Regions from separate parts of the Homo sapiens genome. Here region 1 is linked to region 2. A link means that fine-mapping ties the variant in region 2 to the plasma level of a protein whose gene starts in the linked region. Region 2 holds a variant in brackets. A gene starts in the other region. All regions are shown on their forward strands.

Region 1 (2,925 bases), not on the chromosome of region 2:
TTAAAAGGTTAAATGAAAGGGGTTAGCATGGTACTGGCACATAGAAACTGCTCAGCTGTTATTCTTGCTTGTATTATGCCTAAACCCAGCTCCCAGTCAACACAAGTGCTACTCTGGCCATAAGGCCCAAGTTTTTTATATACCCCCCCAATTTTTATTCAAAACAAGTGAGTCTATAAATCTATGAAGAGACAGAAAAACTTGTTTCTTATGACCCTCTGAGAAAGTGAATATTGACTACATCAGAGGAACAAATATTACATTTATAAGCACATTGACTTATTATGGGGATAAGGCATTGTTATTTCATTGTCTAGAATGAGTAAACATAATTAATAATTGTAAGCATCCATTAAGCATGTTATGTAAGTTAAAAAAAAGTAAAGATAAGAAAGTCCTTGGCTTTGTATACAGTTTACTACAAGGGAGGTTTCTCTTAATTAAATATGAAAAATATGAAATAATTGCTGTTCTTCCATTAGTAAAGAACAGTTTAGCTATTATACACCCAAGTCATTATAATTAATGTGTAACTAAATGACTTGAGTTAGAGATTAAAGGATTGGTAGGGTTTATAATTCTGAGGAATATCCAGTGGTGAGACATTCAATGAGTAAAAATGTTGTGTTTCTTCAGATTTGTAATTCTTCAAAACCATGTTTATAAAATATCTCTCACATTTATGAGAACTCTAAAAATTAACCAACTAGAAATTTTGTTAGTTGATACTGCTGTTTTAAAGCTATAACTTAAACCTTGAAACAAATTTAATTGATCAATTTAATTGTAGGTAGTGATTACTGTCTATAAATTTGAAGCTGGGAAAAATGTTATTAAATGAAATGACCAAGCTAAAATGAAATTCTATCTAGAAGTTAGGTGAAGTATTTTCAAAAAGGATAAATGGGCTTAAATATATGGATCATGACTGGACAGAGGTGTCTGTGGGCCTAGTCTTCCAAAAAGAGACAATTATTACTAGTAATTTAAAAAAGCAAAAGTAGAAGCATACATTGTGTTAGTCTATATACCCTAGGATCACAAAAGGAAGATAATTGTAGGAAAATTCATGGTAAAGTACAAACCCAATCACATCACAAAATGCTTTGCCAATTTCCAAATTTGTAATGGTATTTCTCACCCAGTTCTTTCATGTAATCCTCAAAGTTTTCACTGGAGACCAGCTTCCAGGTTCCCAAGAAGGGCTCAACCATCATGGAACACTTGCTGAGAAGAGCCACTCGTAATTGAAAACCAAAGAAATATAGGCATTACGGTGCTGCCAGTAGTTTAATTTAAAGAGCGTCTTCATCACGTGACTCTTCTGAAATGGCCAATGGGCAACAGCAGCAAGACTAAAGATTCTAGGCACCAGCATTTGACTCATTTTATTTACCTCCAAATTAAGAGACAGAAAATTAGCATGTAAAATTAAATTCTGGTCAATGATTTTAGCTTCTAGCAAAAAGATTTACACCCAAGTCACCTGACAAATATTACTTGTGGAACGGAGACAATCTTCAATAGACATCAGCTTTTTGAACAATGAATACTGAGTCAACCCTGGAGGAATATCCTGACAAATTGATAAACACCTGGCTGAGATGTTTTCCTACCTAAGACAAGAAATCCTTGCTTGGTCCACCTCAGCTGTTTTTTGTTTGGGTAAGTCACAGTGCTCAAACATCCTCTTCATTAAAATAATATCTTCCCTTCCCTTCCTTACAGGGTTGATGGGTTGATATTAGTTAATGTAACTAAAATGCCTATAATTGCTTGGAGGGAAATGGAGGGTATTATTAATATATTATCATTGTTGTTAATCGAAGGTAATTGAGGACAGGAAAGAAAGGTGACAATTATCATTGGATAATAGTATATGATTTAAGCTCTGAAAAGGAAGCAGAGCGAATGCCTACAAAATTCGTCTTTCAGGCTTACAAAGTAAACTCTACATTAAAAGATATTTTAAATTATAAGAAAAAATTTTGGCAAGTTTCATATAGAAAAAGATGTTTGGAATCTGCATTCTAAAAGAAAGACAAAGGCAGCAAATGGTTTCAATCTCTGTGCCATTACTTCTGAAACCATCTTCTGCAACCCCAATAATGGAAGTGGACTTTGCAGGTACTGAGTTTAGTAAGAAGGAGTAGATTCAGTAGCTGTTGATTTACATTACGGTTTTGAACTCCAGTTAACTTTAGAAGATGTTGGAAAGTTAGTGTCAGGGACCAGAAGAAGAATATTTATATTTTTACCTGCTTTGTATGAAGTATTTATTTAATTCAGAAAATATTGTTTGTGAACAAAATAAACAGGAGGTTGATATTTTGGTACTGTAAAACAATAACTTAAGTGGAATAAAGGATGGCTTTTGATGAAAACATATAAAGAAGAAACATATAATGTGATATCTTTATGGGTGGGACAATTATTAAATTATCTACAGTGCAAAACAGGGTAAGTGAAAATCCTGGAGTTAATTTCAGGAAACTAAGACCCAAGCTCAAAATAAGTGCCTCAGCAGTTGAAAGTGCATTCAGAGGTGATGTTCAAATATAGAGCAAGTTGTTAAACGTTTGCTTAACTGGTTCGAGATGTGTATGCACTCTCTGCTTTAAAGAAAGCAAGCATACATTGCTATGCCTGTTGGCCAGCTGGGTAGTGTAGCAAAGGTCTCCCATCAGCATAATCTTCCTTGTTGTTTTGATTCTCCTGTCATAGAATGATATTCCTGTGGTCCGTTTAGAACTCAGTTGGCCCATGAGACAAAAGCTAACATCAGATTTCTGGTTTCAATTATCCTCAGCAAACTAACGCAGGAAGAGAAAAACACCTCATGTTCTCACTTATAAGTGGGAGCTGAACAGTAAGAACACATGGACACAAGGAGGAGAACAATGCACACTGGAGCCTGTTGGGGCC
Region 2 (2,925 bases):
TCAGAGATTGATTGACTCATTGTTTTGTTGATATCTAGATCTAAATGATTTAAGACAGTGATGGAGAAACTATTAATCCAGTTTAAATTTTAAAATGTGTTCTGTCTGCAGCCTTTACATTATGTATAGCACAAAAATATCAACAGAATATTATTCTGGTATTTGCAAACTAGTATCCAATTCAGCAAAGAAGTTGCTCACATCATTGATAAACAAGTAAAGTTCAACATAAATCTTAATTGTTTCACTTCAATCACTGCTTATAAAGAAAACTCTCAACCAACATTCATGTCTGATAGCACTCTTTTGTCAATTGCAACCAAAAGTTGACAACAAAAACTAGAATTCAATAAAAAGCAACAAATAGGCCTGGCGCGGTGGTTCATGCCTGTAATCCCAGCACTTTGGGAGGCCGAGGCAGGTGGATCACCTGAGGTCAGGAGTTCAAGACAATCCTGGCCAACATGCTGAAACCCTGTCTCTACTAAAAATACAAAAATTAGCCAACATGGTGGTGCGTGCCTGTGATCCCAGCTACTCTGGAGGCTGAGGCAGGAGAACTGCTTGAACCCAGGAGGCAGAGGTTGCAGGGAGCCGAGATCGCACCACTTTACTCTGGCCTGGGCAGCAGAGCAAGACTTGGTCTCCAAAAAAAAAAAAAAAAAGCAACAAATTATTCTGAGACTCAACTGGCTATGTGGAATTTACAATAAACTGCATGGTATATTTTCATTATTTGCAAATTGTGTGATACACATCGTTTATATAGTAAAATGTATGATAAGTCTTTTGTGTATATATATGGAATATACATATTCCACCTACACACACACACATACACACACACACACACAGAACAGTCGTTAAATGTTTACCAGCACGCCACTGCCCAGGGGTGAGAACATTCCTCCACAAACTGTACCCCTCCCCAGCACCCCACAAGCCTGGGGGATTTAAGGTCTTGACACTTAAAGCCTGGCCGAAAGCAAAGGGAGTGCATGGCATTTGGGAGAAAGAGCAGTGACCTGCCCCTTGGTAAACCCCTCTTCCTCTCCAGATCTCAGTTTCCCCATCTGAAAAATGGCCATCCTCCGAGGGCCCTCCCGCCGGCGCAGCTCTCAACGCACCTTCTGGATCATGACGCTGTACATGCCCATGGACTGGAAACCCCGCGTATAGTAGAGCATGTTCGCCCAGCCCAGGGCCATGGCCAGCA[C/T]GAGGCAGGCGAGGTACTCTTTGTAGGCAAACAAGTACAAGAAGACAGACAGTATCACAAGCACAGCTTGGATAAAACTGTTCAGGAGACACAGGAGACACGGGCCTTACTTACTTCTCAGCATCAGGGCAAAGATATGCAAATCCCCCAAACCTCCCTTAAACCCCCTGAACAGTCACCCCGGTGACGGATGCTGAAGAGACCAGAATCACGCTGCCTCAGATCCATTTGGCTACCATAGAATTCAGCCTGTAGAGACATCACCAGATGCCACTCACAGCCTGTGGTAAGCTGATTGCAGCTGGTGGGGACTTTAAAAAAAGAAAAAACACACATCCACAGGGCCGCAGAAGATTCTAGGGTACTGCCCGGGAGGCCATATATTTTTTAAATTACCCACACGGGCCTGGTGTAGTGGCTTTCGCCTGTAATCCCAACACTTTGGGGGGCTGAGATAGGAGAAACGCTTCAGGCCAGGAGTTCAGGACCAGCCTGAGTGACATAGTGAGACCTTGTCTCTACAAAAAAAAAAAAAAAAAGAAAAGAAAAATAATCTAAATCACCCACATAATTTCTGACTCCTGCATCGATTTGAGAACTACTGGAGTAGACCAAAGATGTGGTAAATGATTGTATTTTTAACCAAAATGACAAAAACTGCCAATATCTATACTTAAAAGCCAATCATAGCAAAAGTCCCCCAAACCCTACTTTTTAAATCGTGGTGTTTTTTGGGGGGGTCAGGGGGGCAGAGACAGGGTCTTGCTCTGTCACCTAGGCTGGAGTACAGTGGCATGAACTCTGCTCACTGCAACCTCCGCCTCCCAGGCTCAAGTGATTCTCCTGCCTCAGCCTCCCTAGTAGCTGGGATTACAGGCACCCGCCACCACACCAGGCTCATTTTTGTATTTTTAGTAGAGATGGGGTTTCACCATGTTGGCCAGGCTGGTCTCGAACTTCTGACCTCAGGTGATCCACCCACCTCGGCCTCCCAAAGTGCTGGGATTACAGGCGTGAGCCAACGCGCCCAGCATTAAATCTTTTTAAAGTATGATGTATGCTAAGTGAAATAAGATAGGTGACTCCACTATATGACTGTACCTAAAATAGTCCAATTCACAGAGAAAGATGGAAGAATGGTGGTTACAGGGGGCCGGGAAAGGAGAGGAATAGGGGCTGTTGTTTAAGGGGTATGGAGTTTGAGTTTTACAGGACGAAAACAGTTCTAAAGACTGATTGCCCAACAACATGAATGTACTTCACAGTATTGATTTCTACGCTTAAAAAATGGGTGCAATGCTAACTTTTATGCTATGTGTATTTTACCACAATTAATTTTTTTTTTTTTTTTGAGATGTAGTCTCACTCTGTCGCCCAGGCTGGAGTACAGTGGCATGATCTCGGCTCACTGCAGCCTCCGCCTCCCTGGTTCAAGCAATTCTCCTGCCTCAGCCTCCAGAGTAGCTGGGATTACAGGTGCATGCCACCACACACAAGGCTAATTTTTGTATTTTTTGTAGAGAGAGGGGATTTCACCAGACTGGTCTCAAACTCCTGACCTCAGATGATAGGCCCACCTTGGCCCACCAAAGTGCTGGGATTACAAGCATGACCCATCGTGCCCGGCCCACAGTTAAAATGTTTTTAAGTATAATATATCGCAAACATACAAAATCAATATCTACTCCTACACAGTCACATGCAGACAT

Direction of the effects. Alleles are on the strand shown, and positions count from the first base shown. The strength of an association depends on the size of the effect and on how common the allele is.
In carriers of allele C in region 2, the plasma level of the protein whose gene starts at base 1,270 in region 1 tends to be lower than with T alone (weak association).

What was found. PIP is the posterior inclusion probability: the model's chance that the variant is causal. Protein levels are from antibody-based Olink assays in UK Biobank. Linkage for the fine-mapping came from a reference panel and not from the study's own genotypes, which makes the PIPs less certain.
Region 1: it holds the start of FABP9, and the variant in region 2 is fine-mapped to the plasma level of the FABP9 protein (UK Biobank, PIP above 0.99).

The regions. Positions count from the first base shown.
Region 1 is chr8:81,460,310-81,463,234 of GRCh38, forward strand. It overlaps FABP9 (fatty acid binding protein 9), which reads right to left and starts at 1,270. Exons shown (of 4, transcript NM_001080526.2): 1 at 1,142-1,270. The coding sequence starts at 1,214. It overlaps LOC101927118 (a long non-coding RNA gene), which reads left to right and starts at 1,149. Exons shown (of 9, transcript XR_001745980.2): 1 at 1,149-1,665.
Region 2 is chr17:3,523,071-3,525,995 of GRCh38, forward strand. It overlaps TRPV3 (transient receptor potential cation channel subfamily V member 3), which reads right to left. Exons shown (of 18, transcript NM_145068.4): 13 at 1,128-1,293. Among named protein-coding and RNA genes, the nearest start is that of TRPV3, 33 kb to the right of the region's middle. RefSeq lists an enhancer at 1,145-1,644. The variant C/T (reference allele first, on the strand shown) is at 1,217.